3 linked regions of the Homo sapiens genome follow. The protein of the gene in region 1 interacts with the protein of each later gene in a pairwise test. Each region holds a gene or a part of one and is shown in the gene's direction. Other genes may lie near its edges.

What was found.
Region 2: the proteins of NEBL (region 1) and TRIM55 interact in a two-hybrid assay, tested with the Homo sapiens proteins (one study listed by BioGRID).
Region 3: the proteins of NEBL (region 1) and MYPN interact in a two-hybrid assay, tested with the Homo sapiens proteins (one study listed by BioGRID).

The regions. Positions count from the first base shown.
Region 1 is NC_000010.11:20,809,481-20,818,200, reverse strand, and holds part of NEBL (nebulette), read left to right. Parts: intron 1-508; coding exon 509-601; exon of another isoform or gene 602-696; intron 697-2,483; coding exon 2,484-2,576; intron 2,577-4,157; coding exon 4,158-4,262; intron 4,263-5,260; coding exon 5,261-5,432; intron 5,433-8,302; coding exon 8,303-8,395; intron 8,396-8,720. UniProt on the Homo sapiens protein: Binds to actin and plays an important role in the assembly of the Z-disk. May functionally link sarcomeric actin to the desmin intermediate filaments in the heart muscle sarcomeres.
Region 2 is NC_000008.11:66,172,129-66,175,985, forward strand, and holds the end of TRIM55 (tripartite motif-containing protein 55), read left to right. Parts: intron 1-2,342; coding exon 2,343-2,465; 3' UTR 2,466-3,357; downstream 3,358-3,857. UniProt on the Homo sapiens protein: E3 ubiquitin ligase that plays an important role in regulating cardiac development and contractility, muscle growth, metabolism, and fiber-type differentiation.
Region 3 is NC_000010.11:68,105,535-68,112,487, forward strand, and holds the start of MYPN (myopalladin), read left to right. Parts: upstream 1-3,953; 5' UTR 3,954-4,189; intron 4,190-6,953. UniProt on the Homo sapiens protein: Component of the sarcomere that tethers together nebulin (skeletal muscle) and nebulette (cardiac muscle) to alpha-actinin, at the Z lines.

The DNA.
Region 1 (8,720 bases):
TCAAAATGTAAGAGTAGGTTCTCCTGGGTGGAGATAATGAGGCTCAACACTGTTTATCCTTATAATATCCCTGGGAGGTGGTAGGAGTCAGAGAGCTTTAGCTTCTATTGAAGGGAGAAGCCCCACGGTCAGAAGACAGTAAAAAGCCTTCTAGGGTGACAGGGAATGGACTTCACAAGAGTTCTCTTGTAATGACTTCATTCTGGCGTTTCTTTTAAAGCATGTTGCCTTATGATTCCATTACTTTTATTTGTGGAATTTATGGTTAATTTTGATATTGAAGAGGAAAGCATTTATTGAAGACATATTTAAACAGTACCAGCAACAACTTGTGCTTGCTAAATCAGACCCATCGGAATGTGGGCGTATATGTAAGCGTGAAGGTTGATGTAATCAACTGTGGAAAAAAATGTGTAAAAAGATGGTGCTAATTTTGAGCCTTGTCCTTTGTGGTATTTCAGTGGAGCCCATTGTGCTATCTGTTAAAGTTCTTATTTATCCTTCTTAGGTAAAATATAAGGGAGAACTTCAACGGGGAACTGCAATTTCTGATCCACCAGAGCTGAAGAGGGCAAAAGAAAACCAGAAAAACATCAGCAATGTGTGATCATCTTAGTAACTTTTTTCTTACACTATCAAATGCATTGTCCACGTGTGAATGAAGGGATTGTATTTATAGAATTTTCATAACCTTGAGCTGATGTCCTGTTCTCATTTGACTAACAACTTATTTGAAAGATTTCGGGGACTTTGGTATTGTGGGTACAGTCAGGTGTTCCCCACCTCAGGGTTCCCAGTGACTCATCAGGATGACTTTTTTCTTTTTGTTTTTTTGAGACAGGGTCTTGCTCTGTCACCCAGACTGGAATGCAGTGGCACAATCTTGACTCACTGCAACCTTTGCCTTCTGGGTTCAAGTGATCCTCCCAGCTCAACCTCCCAAGCAGCTGGGATTACAGGCACATGCTGCCACACCTGGCTAATTTTTGTATTTTTTGTAGAGACGGGGTTTGGGCTGGTCTCAAACTCCTGAGCTCATGCAATCCGGCCACCTTGGCCTCCCAAAGTGCTGGGATTACAGATGTGTGCCACCGGGCCTGGGTGACTTTTTTTGACAGGTTGTTGTGTATCCCTTCTATCTTGTCATCTAGCTGATGGGTGCTATGGTCTCCTCAAGTCCCACAGTCGTAGCTTCTGGCATCCTGGCCCTACAAACAAACATTTTCCCTCCCTTTTCTACCAGCATGTGTTCCTGTTCTTGCGCTTCCTCCGAGCCCCACTTTCCACTTCCCACAATCATGACTCCATTTTTGGGCAAAGTCTAGGAAGAAATGATAATGTGTGCATGGCTGAATAGGTTATATTGGACAGGACCATTTTGGGGGCACTTAATAAGGGGCTGGCAGTTTTTACCTAGACACCAACTTGTGGCCTGCTCCGATTCCCTGTTGTTGAAATAATTCACGGATGCAGTTCAAGAAGAAAGTCCTCTTTTACAGTCATTAACATATAGATTGGGTTCTTTGGAAGAGGAAACTTGGAAATCTATTACGTTCAAAGAAATCTTTTATTCTTCACACCTTTAAAGTCATTTTACCAGTTTATAATGCAAAGGCAGGTGATTGATACTTTTCCTAACAACTATATTTTAGAGAAGTAGACGCTCATCTTTCCCCCATATATTTAGAGTCATACTTGATGTGACTCCATTATTCTCAAAAAGGAACATGGTTATTTAGACAAGGAGTGGACCAGTGAGAAGCATGCTGGCTTTTTAAAGGATGCCCACAGTCACCTATTTAAACACATCTTTACAAAAATTCTGCCGCAGTTAATTCCTAAGAAACCACGACCATGTAGTACCAGTCTACGGTGAATACCTTTAAGTAATCTCCATGAAGACATTTATTCTCATTTCCTTTTGTGGTTAAATATTTATTACAGCTTTACGGATGGTATGCCTATGTATTCGAGTACATCCACAGTGATTTGGACACATGTACTCTCTTATGGGATGAAATGAAATAGATTGATTTAAGATGCCAGCATTTTAAATACAACTCAACCTCTGAAAATATTTTTTGTAGTTTCCTACAAAACTTCCCTGACTAACTCATTAAAATAAATACTGTGAGCCAGGCACTGTGGCTCAGGATTGTCATCCCAGCACTTTGGGAGGCTGAGGTGGGTGGATCACTTGAGCCCAGGAGTTTCAGGTCAGCTTGGACAACATGGCAAAACTCAATCTCTACAAAAATACAAAAATTAGCCAGGCATGGTGGCAGGTGCCTGTAATCCCAGCTACCTGGGAGGCTGAGGTGGGAGGATTGCCTGAGCCTGGGAGATCGAGGCTGTGGTGAGCAAAGATTGTACCACTGCACTTCAGCCTGGGTGACAGAGCAAGACCCTGTCTTAAATAAATAAATAAGTCTCTTTGTTGAATTGATTCATAGTATTCTATTTTTTGTTCTCTGAAATGATAGGTTTATTACAGAGGTCAGCTGGGAAGAGCTACCACTTTAAGTGTAACTCCTGAAATGGAAAGAGTGAAGAAGAATCAAGAAAATATTAGCTCGGCAAGTGGTTTTCTTCATTTTAGACTATCACAAAGGATGTGTCTTTTATTATTTACTTGCGGTCCTCCTTTGCTTGTGAAAATAAAACTTATTTTCAAGAAACATTTGTGATGTGTCCAATAAGTACATGTGTTATTTCAGATGACTTCCAAAAGCTGCCACTGCAAACATTTACATTATTTTGCAACTCTTTGTTATTTCCAGATGTGACCAACAGTTACATTCAAAGCTTAGGTTAAAATTATATTCATTTAAACAACGATTCATGATATGTTAGCCGTGTCTTTGAAGGTGGTAAAGCCTTTGATGTGTGCGTTAAATAATTGTCATTTTCCTGAAATATTTCATTGAACATGGATTGTTAAATGCTGTCTGCAAAACAAAATAGGAGATGGATCATTACCCCCACTAAAGACTTACAGAAAAGAATCCTTAAATACAGTTAACGTAGAATTCAGTTGCTCACCAAAGTCCAGTGGTGTACATGAGTATCTTATCTGAATATTGTGCTTCCTCTTAGTGAATATCAGGGCTTCAATTCTGAATTGTACATAATGCCCTCAGGTCCACAGTAAGTGGTATCCATATCTTACACCTAATCAGTTTCATAAATGGCGGTGTTCTGATGGGCAGTTGTGAAGAACACAGGCCCTTTTCTTAGCATACCCTGAATAGCTGTTTGCCTGAGAATCAGCATTTAGGCTTTGCAATTTACAGCTTCCTAGTGACATTTCTGTCCAGAGATGCTGTGTGTATTTAACATAAATTACCTTTAAGTTGTGGCTGCTTAGAAGAACAACTAAATTTGTTCCTCATTGTTTCTTATTCCCTAAGCAGAGAAAAAAATAAAAAGAAATAGAGTAGCTTGTATGCATTTTTTAACACTCTTATGGTAGAAAATTGGGAAATTTAGAAACAAAATAACTTTGGGTTCTATTTAATAGTTTTGGATTTTCTCTGTTTAACTTAAATATGATAACCAGTTGTGTGTGTGTGTGTGTGTGTGTATGTGTGTATGTGTGTGTTTGAGACACAGTCTCTGTTGCCCGGGCTGGAATGCAATAGCACAATCATAGCTCATTGCAGCTTTGAACTCCTGGGCTCAAGCAGCTGTCTTGTCTTAACCTCTCAAGTAGCTGGGACTACAGGCACACGCCCAACTAATTTTTTTTTTTTTTTAATTTTTACCTGTAGAGATGGGGGGTTTCACTGTGCTGCCCAGCCTAGTCTCAAATCCCAGGCCTCAAGTCATCCTCCCACCTTAGCTTTCCAAAGTGCTGTGATTACAGATACGAGTCCTCGGGCTTGCGCAGGTTTACAGACTAGATAGATAGTTACTATTGGTCATTCACACATTTGTTTAGAGTTGATAGATTTAGGTCATTTAGCAGTAGGCGGTGGAGGAGATCTTTGATTGTAAAATTTTAGGTTGCTATTCTAGAACAAAATTTAATTCACTGAAATAGTTACCTGGAAAATAATTTCAAGTATGTTGCATATGTTTCACTCATTTGTAAAGCTTAAAAATGTTACATCATGTGTTTTCTTATCATTGTCTTATGCCTACTATTTACTTTGCAGGTAAAATATACCCAGGACCATAAACAGATGAAAGGTAGACCAAGTCTGATTTTAGATACACCTGCTATGAGACATGTTAAAGAAGCACAAAATCATATTTCAATGGTAGGGTCCAACCAGATCATTCTTAAAACATGCTAAGGAATGGGCGGATCCAGTGCACGGATGGCATTACTTCACTATTAATCCGATAACTAACAAAGCATGGAAATGTGGTTGGCTTGTCTTTTGAGGGAGGGGCATTTCTAATCACACTGAAATGCAGTGGAAACATTTAGTCTAATAAAATGATTTTTCTCAGTGACTTTTTCTGGTGTGTCTTTATTTCTAACGTGACTACTGTAAACTCATAGTGTGAAAGATATTTGTGTAGACTTCTTTCCAATTAATTCTAAGACAAAATTTGGTCTGTTTGCCTGTCATAAAGGATATGAAAAGAAGTGTGTTTTTAAAGCTGTGTTTTTAAAAATGTGTGTTTTAAAAATTATATTATCAGATGTAATTTACCTACCATAAAGTTTGCCCATTTAAAGTGTTCAATTCAATGGTTTCTAGTATAATTTACAGTTACACAACTATCTCCTGGACCTAATTTCAGGACATAAAAAAAGTATATTTTGAAGTATAAGTTTTTGTAATTATATTAAAAGTGGTATATATTGTTACCTATAAAATTTCAAACTGATTTTAAATAATGCCATTTTCATGAATGATTGCCTGGAAATAGATATCACTTTATTGCATACTGAAGTTGAAGAGATAGGAAATTTAATTTATATTTAAATTAGTATATTTTAGGAAGTAACCAGGATTTGAGAATATGTATTTTTACAAGCTCTCATTAATAATATATATATAGTTTTATATATAATTTAAAATAGATATGAGCTATAATGATTAAAAACTTTGTGAAAATATCAGCACTTGATTTCTGATGCTAAGAAACTGAAGTTCCAGACTTTAGTTTTGGAGTATTTGGAAAAGATACATACATGTAGACAATCTGCACGCAGCCAGTGCAGTGTACACCTGTCATTTAATAAAAATGTTGTGAAAGAGGTAACTATCCGCAAAATTCAGTATGATGATTTTTCCTTTTTCAGGTAAAATACCATGAAGATTTTGAAAAAACAAAGGGGAGAGGCTTTACTCCCGTCGTGGACGATCCTGTGACAGAGAGAGTGAGGAAGAACACCCAGGTGGTCAGCGATGCTGCCTATAAAGGGGTCCACCCTCACATCGTGGAGATGGACAGGAGACCTGGAATCATTGTTGGTAAGCTGACGGCGTTTGTCGGCCGGTGTGTGTGGTCGAAAAGATCATGCTTGCTCTAGCTTCAGAATTACCCTCTTGAGTCATCTGACTCCTCATCACATGTTGGTTGTGGTACCCAATTTAAAATGGACCGCAGGTAAAGTATTATTTTTGTACGATGTGGAATGGGATTTCTGGCATTCACCTGGTATCATCTCAAGTCTTTTCTATTATTGGAAGCTCTGTCTTTAATACCTTGCTAATTTTAAGAATGTTCCTCCTTGTATCACACACCAGGGCCTGTTGTGAGGTGGGGGGAGGGGGGAGGGATAGCATTAGGAGATACACCTAATGTAAATGACGAGTTAAGGGTGCAGCACACCAACGTGGCACATGTATACGTATGTAACAAACCTGCATGTTGTGCACATGTACCCTAGAACTTCAAGTATAATAATAATAAAAAAAAGAATGTTCCTCCTTGTTAAGCAAAGAAGCAGCAGAGATATGAGTGATCACAATGGTTGAACAATTACTTTGTTTTTCTTTAAAAAGAAAAACAAAATAATTGTTTTTCTGCTTGGTTGACGTGTTGTTCTGTTGACCTCATGTGCATAAGTGGCAGAAATAACCATATTGCGTTTAGGTCCTTTTATCAAAAACAGACACGCCATGGGCGTTCTGATGGTACTCCATAATAGTAATAGCTCATTTTAAAAATATTATTTCTGGACTGGAATAGTTGAGAGCCATCTGAAAGTCTTGCAATTAAGAGAGCAAACTTTTATTCCTGCTATCTGTTCCTTATAGTCAGGAGAAATCCTAGAAGGATATTTGTTGAATGGTGGCTGAGATATCAGAAAAGATCATACTGAAGTATAAGGCAGGGCTAGGAAGGATGATTATTGATTTTTCAGTCTGTATCAACAACTGAAGACTATTGTCTCCTTCAGAGCAGTTAACCTCTGAATTATGTAGTTACGTAGCTTAAAGAATATTTTTGGTATATGCCACTCAGTAATATCAGTGTTAGGTTTTCTTCATCTTCAAAAGTAGGAGCTTATTTTTTGGTACTAGTGAAAGGCCATTTAGAGATAAGCTAAATTTGACAGGGTAATGTCTTTACAAAACCAGGGTGCTAAAGTCAGAGCAGCACTAAGTAACTTGGATGATTATACTAAAGTGACTCTGGAAGTATTTTCTGAAGAAGGATTCCAAACATGTTTGTAGGCAATTGATAGCTTTGCTGATCTGCCTGAGTTGATTACTTAAAAGGATCACATTAAGTTGGATGGATGAGTTGTGATGTTTTCATTCAATGTGACACCAAATTAGAGTTTCATTGCTTTGTGCTAAAGGGATGGAACTATCTTAAGGGATAGTGCAGGGGTTCTGATTTATCTCACTTAGGGTGGAACTGCTAAAGTCTGTACAGCTTACTTCCAGGCCCTGCACACATCAGAGGTCAGGAATGATGGTGAGGTCGTTGCTAAAAACCATGAAACTGTCTAGACCGTGGGCTCTCAGAATTCAGTACTCAAAACCATTGAGGTTGAAATTATGATTGTTTTATAAAATATAAGATGTATGACTCTAAGTTATTTACTTACTTGGCAATCCAGAAGTCAGTTTATTTGTTCTTATTGGGAAGAACTGTTTTCCATTGAAATTTCCATAATTGGCCAACATTAAACTTTCCAATGAGCCAGCTTCTGTATCAGGCATGAAAATACACGTTTAGAGATTTTCTGAGTAATTCAGATTAAGCCAATTTGTGCTGCTTCTATTTTTGTTGGAGGCTCTGCTACTTCTTACGAGCTGTGTAACCTTGGCCAAGCTACTCAATTTCTCTGTGCCTCAGTTTCCTCATCTACAAAATGAGGATAATATGTATGAAACTTAAATTAATTAGGTGTTAAATGAGAAGAGTGCCTGGCATATGGTCAGCACTACATAATATTAATTAAAAACAGACAAGCAAATTTCCAGTTCCATTTTACAAATTAATTGTTTTTGCTGTAGCCCCATTTCTGCCGTATGTCTATAACTAGGTTTTTCTTTTCCAGTTGTTGGTACAGCTGTAAACAGCTTATTTTAGGATCTGATGCCCTTTTGTTGGAGAGACTGGTGAATTCAGAAGTTATTAAAATAAGAGGAGAATAAAGTGGTTTGCACAGTCTGATCACTGACTATGGCAGGGATCCATTGACAGCAGGAAGCTGATATTATTTCTCTTTTCATTCATCATATTTCCTTGCTGTGTGCCTTGCTTATAACACTTTTTAAATAAGTGTATCTAATAAGATATGCATTCCCTAAGATACACTTAGCTTGCACTCACAGACTCAGAATGAAAACTAGGCTTGCCACCATTCCACATTTTAAATATTCATTTCTGTTATAGAAAGGGACTTTTTTTTTGTTTGTTTTGTTTTTTAAACATAAACTTCTCAATTGTTTCCTATGAATTACTCACATGTCCTGAATCAGAAACTATAATCAAACATTTTGCTTGTTTCAGCCTGTGGAGAGCAAGAGTGACTGGGGATTCAGGGGTGCTGTGAGGGGATGCATATAGCTGCCCCATGTGCTCCTGTGTTGTGTGATGGGTCACAGGTACTTCAGCAAGGTCTGATAGGGCAGCTCAATGAATAGAGCAGGCAACTTCAATCTGATTACAAAGATTTCTTAACAGATACTTGTGAAAGCAAGTATTTTTTCATTCTCTTCTGAAGTCAGCAGCACTGTGAGTTTGTCTGTTACATGTTTGCTTCTTATATCTATTCCTTTGCAGACTTTGTCTTGACTCTTTTGGGTACTGGCTTTTTTTTTTTTTTTTCCTTTTTTAAATTCCTTCTTGATGAGTGTTGATTTCTTCCTTTTGGCAAAAGACCTCAAAGTTTGGCGCACAGATCCTGGCTCCATCTTCGACCTTGATCCCCTGGAAGACAATATTCAGTCTAGAAGTCTCCATATGCTCTCTGGTATTACTCACTTTTTAGTTCATCCCATTTATGTGGTTTTGTCCCAAAAGTGAACCACTGTGAACTGTAGAGGTTCATTGTACTGTGTAATGTAAATTTTAAAGCTGAGAATTTGGCAAACCAAAAAAATGCTATGCTACTTTTAAATACAATTAGTCATTTATGAAAAGAAAACTTTTTAATATATCTTAATTAGTCTGTCCTAGATTCATTTAAATAAGCTTTTTATTAGTAAGAATGCTTTTATATTATTTCTGGGTTTACAAATACAGTTATTTGGATTGCACTAAAGTGCTGAGACAAAAGGAGGTTTGTTTCATGAAAT
Region 2 (3,857 bases), on another chromosome or scaffold:
GTGTAAAGTGCTTTATGTGTATTACTTTATTCAGTCCTTACGACAACCTTGTAAGGTAGGTTCTCATCTCTATTTTACAGAAGAGAAAACTAAGGCTCAGAGAGTTAACTAACTTGTCCAAGTCATACAGCTAATAAGTAGTTTGTGTGGGATTCAAAACTAGGCTAAGCCTCTTTGCACAGAACTTTCTTTGCTGAGCTGGTTGTTGGGTCCTCAGTGGATATAAACAAGACCAAGGAGATGGTGCAATTATCTAAAGATACTCAGGATAACCTCTGCTATTGGATAACCCCCCACTCTGGTACTGGCTTTTCTTTTCTGAAAGATAGCATTGGTCCATATTGTTTGGAGGAAAACTTAATAATTTCCTGGAAACATGGAAGTGTAAGAGAAGCCAACCCAAACTATGTAATCCCAAATATGAAGGCAATAGTGGGTTAACAACTAAAACATTTTAAATGGAAGATAGATGTCAATCTCTAGTAGAGGAAAGCACAAAAATTTATACATATTCCAAAAGCAGTCCCAGGGGCTTGTTCGCTACCAGCAGTTTCCCAAAGGTTCTGCCTTCTGCAGAAAACACATTACCCAACTTGTGTCACCCTTCAACTATGTCAGAACAGCTGCCATGGAAGTTCCCTTTAGATTAGAAACTGCCTTCAAGAAAAAGAGGCCACAAAATGGACCTTGATGGTCTGTTCATCCAGGCGGAATTCGCTATTTGCTCAAATTGAATGGTTAAAAATAAGTCTTTTTATATATGCCCAGGTCATTTGGGCTTTCGGGGTTTTTTGTTGTTGTTGTTTTTTGCATAAGCCATACATGAGACTTAAGGGTTTGTTTTTTGTTTGTTTGTTTATTAGCCAGGGTAAGAGGATTATGGTGGGCAAGGAAGGAGTTGGACGTGTAAAAATAGGTGCAGGATTCTGTCAGGATAATGTTTATTTTACTTCACTTTCAAGGACATTGAGGTATCTGACACATTACCAACAGAATCTAGTAACGTTCTTTTTCAAAAAGCCCAATTTCGCTTGATGTTTCCACTATTCCTTCATAGAAAACTACCTATTTCAGTTTTATTCTACTGTGGCTAATATGATTTCATGGCCCTTTTTAACTTTCTATCAGGAAGCAATGTGGCAGTACAAAGGATTATCCCAAAGCCATAAAGACTTAGGATAATTTTATTGCTCTTGAAACATCATCCCCAAACATATGTTTAGGGTAAAATCTGGTAAAGTGCAGGCCAATAACTCATTTTGCTCTCAAGACTATTTTGAGTGGCAGTAAAACAACATACTTAACCAAAGTTCTGCTTTACTTGTGCCAGGTATTATCCATTCATATCGCAGCTTCATAAAATCATCCAGGGCTTCTGAGCTGAATGCATGTGGCTACCTCACTGCTTTGAAATCAGTGGCATTCTAATCTGGTGGGATAATTTTACCAGTGATGTCATCGGAACATGTTTGCTTATTTATCCATAGTTCTCCTAGGAAGGACGGTGTTTGTCATGGTACCTTGAAATGTAAAGAGTTTGAGCTCATAAAATCAAATTGCATTTCAGCAAGACTTCTTCCTGATTGTCCCTCATTCCATTAAGTTGTGATTTTTAAAGGCAAAACAACATAAGTAAATTTTGCTTATGACATAGATTAATCAATAAATTCAGAATTGCAACCTGTCTATCTCAGGTGCCTACAAAAGATAATTATTTCTTTAGACATGCTTATATTGGATTTGATTTAATATAGATATGGTTATTAGATTTTATTACCTAGAGAAAAAAAAATCCCATCATGATTTGCCCAAAATTAAGCCTGTAGTTTTGTAAAAATTATAGTAAGAAAATATATATGTATATGCATGCTAGAAACTTCTTCAGCAGTGGAGGGATTATATTAATATGTCCCACAATGTCATGTGGCATAGCAGTGCCATTTAAATTTGGAATTTTTTCAAATTCTGCAACCCTTTCTAAACCCAGTTCCTAGAGGTTTCAATGAGACTTTCATCTGAATAAATCATGTACAAGTGGACTTAAAAAAAAAAAAAACTAGAATAGCCTGAACTCCTTTTTCCCAAGAACTTCTCTCCACTGCATGCATTACTGTTCCTTCTTTTTGTATCATGAGTGTGAATTATTTTCATGACTCTTGGCTGTAGCCAAAATAATCTGAGCTTGCTTTCTATTTCTAATAATTATGTGCCATATAATAATATTGTTATTATAATAATAATTGTTATTATTATTATACTTTCTCCTCAATAGAAAAGTGACTGGACCAATCCAAAAAGAACAAACCTCTTTTTTCTCTGATTCCCATTTTCTTCCATTGCAGATTGGATTTGAGGCTCCTCCCCTCCAGGGACAGGCTGCAGCTCCAGCGAGTGGCAGTGGAGCTGATTCTGAGCCAGCTCGCCATATCTTCTCCTTTTCCTGGTTGAACTCCCTAAATGAATGATATTCATTCCAACTGCTGCCCCTCTGTCTGCCTGGCTGAGATGCATGTGGGCAGCAGGAAGCCCAAGTGAAATTAATATTATGCAGATGATGAAAGGGACCTCTGAACAGGATTTCTGCAAAAATAGCCCCAAACTGCAATTCCATATGACTTATCTAACATCTTGGGGGGAAAGAATATTTTGAGAAAATAGTTGCAGAAAGCACTGGAAATAATAAACTTGATCTTATACAAATCTTCTATTGTGTGGAAAATGTTGTGAAGGGTGTGTAGGTGTGGTACATGTGTATGTCACTAACAAGTGGCAAATGGTGAAAAAAGTGGTCACTATGCTTTTGTCTCTCATAGGCACTGACTTTTTGTTATTATATTATGGTAGCTTTCATTTCCTTTACTCTTTAACAGTGCAGGTGGTCAGTGAAAATCAGTGTCAACTCAGAAGTGACTGATTTATCAATACATGGACAAAAAGTAAATCATTGACCAAAGCTATGAAATGTTTCACAAAGTTTTCCTCTTTTGCATAACAGATGTCACTGGATGTACATTCAGAAATGTTCTTTGAATTTGGTGACACTTTCATGGTCCAGAAAGCTGAAGGCCTGGGCATCTCTTGTGACATTTTTCTAATATTAGTTTTAGATTTTCACGTATTAGGCACTTTAGTTGAATCTTCCAGCAAAAGCTGTCTACTTTCTCTTTTATTCACTGTGGCACCAATCTGGTAAATTGTAGAACAATTGCATGTGTTTAAATATATATACAAACATATCACACATTAAATATATATATATTTAAATCATGCTTTGTTAATATTTGTCCCACCATAATGCCTCCTTCAGAACATAAGTGTAACTTTATATGAACTCTTAAATAAATGATGTTTTTAAAAGCTTCGTCTTATAATGATTTATTCAATGTTCTGTATTATCTTATTCATCCATTAGTTAAGTGTATTTCAAGGGTCCCAGGATAAGATGCATCTTCATACAGACAAATTAATTTTGAAGTATTAAACATTTGATTGAATTGTTTAAAGCTATAACTAAACTACCAAAGGCAAATGCACTGTAAAACTAATTAAATGTGCTGTTCAGTTTTAGAAATGAACAAAGGTAGTTCCTGTTCCTAAGAATAAAAGTGATTAGGGTTGACATAAGCAAAAATGTGGAGGATATTTGTGTAATTATTAAAGTCAAAATGTTCTTCATAAGAAAATTTTCCTATGTGACATTTTATAATGACTAAATTTAGTCGTCTTAAGTGGAGATGCTATTAAGTTTCTCTTATTAGATGTAGTCATTGGAAAATAGCTTAGAAAAAATAGTTTTATGGTACCAAAGTAGTAGTTTGACAGAGTGAGTTTTTCTCATAGAAAAAGAATGCAGCATT
Region 3 (6,953 bases), about 47 Mb from region 1:
AAAGTTCTGAATAGATTTTCTTCTTGGAAATAATACTTTTTGAAAAGTGTAAACTTTGATATGTACTACATACCAAAAGAACAAGTAAAGGAAGCTTTGTTGTGTTTTAATGCAAACCACACAGTAAAGCTTTAATTTAATCACCTTAAAATTAGGGGAACAAACAGGAAGTGTTGTAATAATTGATTGTTTTTTCGTATTTACCTTAATAAATGCCTTGACCATAGTCCCAGTTTGGTACCAGATAAAGATATTTATACATGTAATATGCATCCTGTGTATAGATATCTTATGTATTCCATATGCTTTATTCTTGAGAATTTCTTCACTCTTATTTTCATTTAGACTAAGGAGAAATCAAGAAAGCCTATTTCCTTAGTCATCTTAGTCATTATCCACCCCCACCAGCCCTGCAGGCTAAGAACATCGTGCAGACTGAGTTATTAAAGTTGATCTGAAAGAGCAATCTGTTCTAAATGACTGTCCCTGGATCTGCAACGGAACCCTGTAAATACCCTTCATTACTCTGGCGGGGCAGTATCACATTTCCTTCATGGCACTTTTGTGTCTGACACAAGTTAGGCAGTGAGATTTGGACTTTAGATGATCCTGGTTGATTGATATAGGAATGGTGCTTCTCCTGAGACAGGTAACCACAAATTTACTTCTCAGGATAATGTTTTAAAGTGGGTGTTCTGTTTAGTTTTTAAAAATGTTTTTAGTTTTTAAAACTAAGTGGGTTTTGAACTTTTAGTTTTTTTTTTTAATGTTTTTAGTTTTCCCAGGCAAGCATTTTCAGTAGTTTAGATGAAAAAGAAATTTCTTAGTGATTTCATTGTCTTTTTCAATTATATTGTTGTCATGCCTTTTATATAAGATCTTTTATAATCCACCACCCATCTATTGTTTTGGATAGTCAAGAACTTGTCTTTGCTGTGAAAATTTTTCTCATTAAAAATGGCTAAAAAATACATACTTTCTCTGTTTTTCAAAAATACGGCATAGAGGTTTTGTTTAGTTTTTTCATCTGATACTGGATATGTCAAGATGAATCTATGAACTTCAAGCAAAACTTATTGAAGCTTTGGTATATGTGAGTAATTTGTTTTAGAGAACTGGAGCCTATAGCGATATAAAAAAATAGCAAATGCAAACATTTTATATGAATCTACTAGCATGGAAATTCTCCCATGCTTACCGTCCAAGTGAAGACTTCCTCTGCCATAGAACTTCCAGATTCCTTGGCATTCCTGTGGATCATCCCAATGTGAGTAAATTGTTTCTGTGGCTGACTGACTGAATTAAGAAAACAGCTGAAGGCAAGCACAGGATCGTGTTCAAACCACAAGAAACACATGTGTTGGATGAGCCACTCAACTTTATGGGGAAGGCTTAAGACATGTAACCAACCTTGTGTTTGCTTGCCACTTAACAAAGTTTGTTTTTAACTATGTTGGGCATTAGAAAGTTTTAAAGATTATTTTTTGTATCAATAAACTCTGATGAAATCTTGAACTAGTAGGTTTGTGATATAATGTTTATACAATTACAACTGAAGATAAGCAAGGCAGGAGCTGGGTTATTTGGAAGCAGAAATTAGTTTTTAAAAACTAAAATCTAAAATATGTTTGATGTACTATAACCAGAGTGTTCACAATTACTAAATATTATTTATTTAAAACATTTATATTCAGCTTTTTTTCAAAGAGCTCAAAAATTGTGTATGGTATCTGTATTTGAAAATGTTGCAGTAAAAATGAAAAGAGAAAGATGACTGCCATTCAGAATGTCTTTGGCTTCTCTTTTCTTTTTTTTTTTTTTTTTTTGAGACAGTCTTGCTGTGTCACCCAGTCTGGAGTGCAATGGCACCATCTCGGCTCACTGCAACCTCTGCCTCCCAGGTTCAAGAGACTCTCCTGCCTCAGCCTCCCAAGGAGCTGGGACTACAGGCATGCACCTCTACGCCCTGCTAATTTTTTTTTTTTTTTGTATTTTTAGTAGAGATGGGGTTTCGCTACGTTGCCCAGGCTGGTCTCAAACTCCTGAGCTCAGGCGATCCGCCTGCCTCAACCTCCCAAAGTGCTAGGATTACAGGCGTGATCCCCCGCGCCCGGCCGGCTTCTTTTTTCTGTAACTCTTCTTTTGCATTTTAAACCTACTTTAATTCTTCATATAGATTCCTAATTTCACTGCCCAACCAGCTTTATTCTACCTTTTAGTATGAGTCTCCTTCAACCTTAGTATTCTATACCTGGGTGAAAGGTAGAATACCAGGCTTATCATGGCAGTTTGCAGGAAAGTAAAAATGTGTTTACTTATAGTGTGTTTAAACATTGCCTTTACTAGCCACCTGAAATAGAGGTTCTATTCTCCCATGGGAGAGACCTACCCAAGACCCAGCAGCACTTAACATTGATTACGGCTTAAGATCTGAGTGGGATAGTGGAGGAAGATCCTCTTTTTAAATAAAAAGAAATTGTTGGCATATCCACATAAATAGAATATGCAGAAGGACAATTAAGTGGTCTTGACATTAGTATCAGCACAAGATTAGGTAAGAGAAAAAATAAATCTGTACATTGAAGCTCTGGGTTACTGTGGTAATGAGAATAACCTGTACAGATAATTCATTTCCTCCTGTATCCTCTTCTCTCCTCAATACCAGTTATTTCAATCTGAATTATTTAAAAGTGTTCTTCATCTTTTTTTGCCTGTGTAAGCATAAAACCACATAAAAAAGGTGTAATTAAACCTCCAATGTGATCACAATAAGCAAAGAAATTTTATATCTGTTCAATGTACTATCAATAGTCTCACGATGACTGAAGAGGATAAAGATCTCTTCGTAAATTCCACGAGGTCAGAAATTTTTGTGTATTTTGTGCACTGTTTTATACTCAGTACCTGGTACACAGTAGGCATTACGAAAATAATTATCAAATGAATGAATGACTAGGAAGAAACCCTATAAGCAGTTGTATGACTTAATTAAGAAAGCTAGATTTAAACCAATGTGTTTCATGCTATCAGAATCTAAGAATGATCTTTTTAAAGAATAATAACCATCATTTAAGTCTGAATTTTCAAAGTCCTGTCTTCTACCATGATTGATAATGTTATAGCATCATTTAATCTATACTAAGCAATCAGGTTAACTTTTTTCAAGTTTATTTATTTATTTATTTTTAATTTTATTATTTTTTTTGAGACAGAGTTTCGCTCTGTCCCCCTTGTTGGAATGCAGTAGCGTGATCTCGGCTCACCGCAACCTCTACCTCCCCGGTTCAAGTGATTCTCCTGCCGCAGCCTCCTGAGTAGCTGATTTATAGGCATGCGCCACCAAACCTGGCTAATTTTTGTATATTTAGTGGAGACGGGGTTTCGCCATGTAGGCCAGCCTGGTCTTGAACTCCTGACCTCAGGTGATCTGCCCACATCAGCCTCCCAAAGTGCTGGGATTACAGGAGTGAGCCACTGCGCCCAGCCAAGGAATTTTTAACGTTAGTTACCTTGTCTGCTTTTGCTTAGCCTTTGGACGAACAATCCAAAAAAGCTCTCAGCTTTAAAACGTTAGACCTTAGCTTCAGGTTGGCTTTTCATAGCCAAATGTCCTAAAATGTATCAGTGATTTAATGAGAGTAAATTTCCTATTGATTAAAATTAAAGATCTTAAAAATTAAAATGAAGAGTTTTCATACATTTAAAAATAATGCCATTTTTTTGAATGATGAACTATGGTATAATGCATTTAGTGTTCATTCCAAACGTCAATCAATAAATAACATGGGCCTCTAGCTATAAGGGAAATTCTATAGGTAAAAGAACTGATTGACCCCCACCCCCATAGGTGCTGTCCTGCTATGGAATCCCTTTGCTCAGTTTTCTCCTGTCCAATCAGGTGGAATGTTTCACAGGCACATGGTTTATACAGCTCAAAATAACTTGGGACCTGTGAGCTGACAAATGCTCTGGCTCCGGTGGTGACAGGTTGTCCAGCTTCTTACAGCCATCTTCACTGAAACTAAGGTTAACTCCTCACTCTCTATGGACGGCTACTCTCTATTTCCAAGGGCGTGAAGAATTTCCCTCTTCTCCTGTGCTTTCATCTAAAAGTTCTCCCTGGATAATTATCATTGCAGTGGAGTGCCTGGATTGGACATCCTCATCTGGGTCAACTAAAAAAAGAAAGGTAATATCCAGATTTAAGTTCACAAGTGTGTTTTGATAACAGGGCACTGACAGTGGAAAAGCGAATATTTCAAAGAACTCATTACTGTTACTTGAAATGAAACCTAGGATAACTGTCTAATTACATATGACGGGACACGAAATTAAGTGAAAAATAAAGCTTTCCACATGTAAAGATTTTGGAGGGGATTGATGAGACTCACAGAGATCACAGACTACTTGAGTTCCTAAGGAAAAATATCTCAACAGAAGAAGTTGTGACATGTTGCATATCTCATTGGCATTTTCCACACATTCATTTATTAAAAGAATGTTGTTTATATAGAGAATATGTAAGCAATGCCAGTTTCCTTTTTAAAGGAAGTTGAATCTAAAATAATATGCCTGCATAAAGACTTTCATTTTAAATTTTTTTATCATGTAAAAGGATACGCTTGCTATATTTAGTGTTGGGAGATCTGCTCCCTGGATTAATGTACACAACAGCTGCAGAAAGTCTTGCTCAAGGGACATTGCTCTTTCTTTCTCCTTTCTCTCTCTCTCTCTCTCTCCGTCTCTTTCTCTCTCTCCCTTTTCAGCTGCATCAGAAAGACACTTGACAGTCAGTGGCAAATGTTTGGCCTGGTACATTGCACTATTAGCAGTAATAGATGCACATCTTGAGTTAAATTTTAAAAACTGTATAAGCAAAGACAGAGAAAAGATGGATTATTATGTATTTCCAGTCCTCAAAAGTGAACATTACAGTAATGGTGTTAAGGAATTTTAGTAACTTATCAACAGATTTTTATATGCTTATTAAAGATATTAACATCAGCTTGAAAGAAACAACACAGTCATCCAGTTTTCTTTCTCAAAAAAGTATGATTCAATTACTTTTACTTTAGTAATAATGAAATGAATCCTACAAACACTAAATTAAAAATTTGTCATAACTTTATAGTCTCTCCTTAATAATAACAGCTCTTGAGTTCACATAAAATTCATAATCCTTTTCTAGGAAATTGAGAATGTCTATACTTACAGCTATCATAAACATATTTTTTAAAACAGAAAATAAGATATACTGTCCGACACATGATTTGACAACAAGCAAAATATTTAAAATCAAGGCCATCCCAAGAAATCTGAAATATATGGATAATATACTTACAGAGGTGTCAAGAGATAAAATTATAGGCCTTACAGAATCTTATAATAATGGACTATGAAACAAACAGTTGAACACTATCCAAATTCTGGAAGTGTGTCTCTATCCCCACTTATAGTATATGGCTAATGCTACTGGAACTCATAATAATGTGTTAAAACCCCAGTCTTCCATATATCTACAATTTATAATATAGACACTACTACAATATGCTTACAAAGGCACTTTCAGTAGAACAGACACAGAACCACAATTTATGGACACAAGAAGTTGAATGAGTTTTTGTCCAAGCTGGTTTTGGAATTCATAGTGGTAGTTTTTGCAAATTTGCTTTTGAACATATGAGACAACAGGTAAATCAGGTTCCATTTTGAAAGGGTTTTAATGAACTAATGTTGGTATGTGAAAAAGTGAGAGTTCAATTTTTCAACAGTTAGTTCCTACACGTAATAGGAATAGTAGACTCAGTTCACTAACCTGAAAATATAAGTCAAATGCTCCTGCCAACCCTAGAACAATTAATTTTTTTTTCATTCACATTGAGATTTGACAAAGATGTTGCTGGTCTCATGGTGTTAGATAACAAGATAGAAAAATGAAAGGGTTTTCTTAACAGGTTTTCCCCTCTCCTAGGGGATGATATTTTTTAAAATATCTCTGTGGTGCTTCATGGTTGACCAAATGCTTTTAAAACTACTATAACATTACCCATTTGCTTAAAGGGAACAACTTAGGTAGAGACTAAATGGTCTGTTTAGAAATTTAAGAACAATTTCAGCAGATATATTTTTGGTGGGAACAAAGGTTGGTGGGACTATTTACCTGCAGTAGCTATAGAGTTCTCAGAGTTCATGTATAACCAGAGTCACCTTGACAAGCTCTGTGCAGGCTCCCTGCTACGGAGACCTCCACTCGGAGTCACAGTGCACTCCACTCTCAGGGAGGGGCCCAATAGAGCCTCCCAACAAAGTGCTTGAACTAGAACTTGATCTTGAGATCCCTTGGGACACCTACTGCTCTCTCAATCTAGCAAATGTATTATGTCAATTTAATTAGGGAAGTTAGCTTTTTTCAAATCCTTAATTACCTTAAAAATGACACAAATAGTAAGAAGCTGAAGAAGAATGAAAGTGTTAAATTTTTGCATTTAAAAAATAAATATTTGAGTTGATAGGGATTGACGAAGTTTTCCCATTTGGGATTTCCTTTATAACAGTTTGGTTCATTATGAATGGTGAGATCTTGAGAGTGATATAAAACCTCCTATGCCTATCACTTTTGTGACAACCACCAAACCCTTTTTCTTTTTTGATCCTAGATTCTTGAAGTCTTCTTGATTGCCTTCCATGAGACTTTCTATGGGCCATAGGATTTATTTTTTACAATATTTCTTCTCTGTCTTTCAGATTAAATAGTACCTTTGAGCTCTGGCTGCAGTGTCTTTCACTAGCGCTTCCCTACATGTTTGTCATCCTCTGGATACAAAAACATACATAATACGCTTCGTAGGAGCCAGTCTTTTTTCTCCCACTCAAACGAAATCTTTACTTTCTTTCCTACATTCTTACTTTTACCAATTCGATTAAAATAATAATAAGAAAATGGCCTACTCACC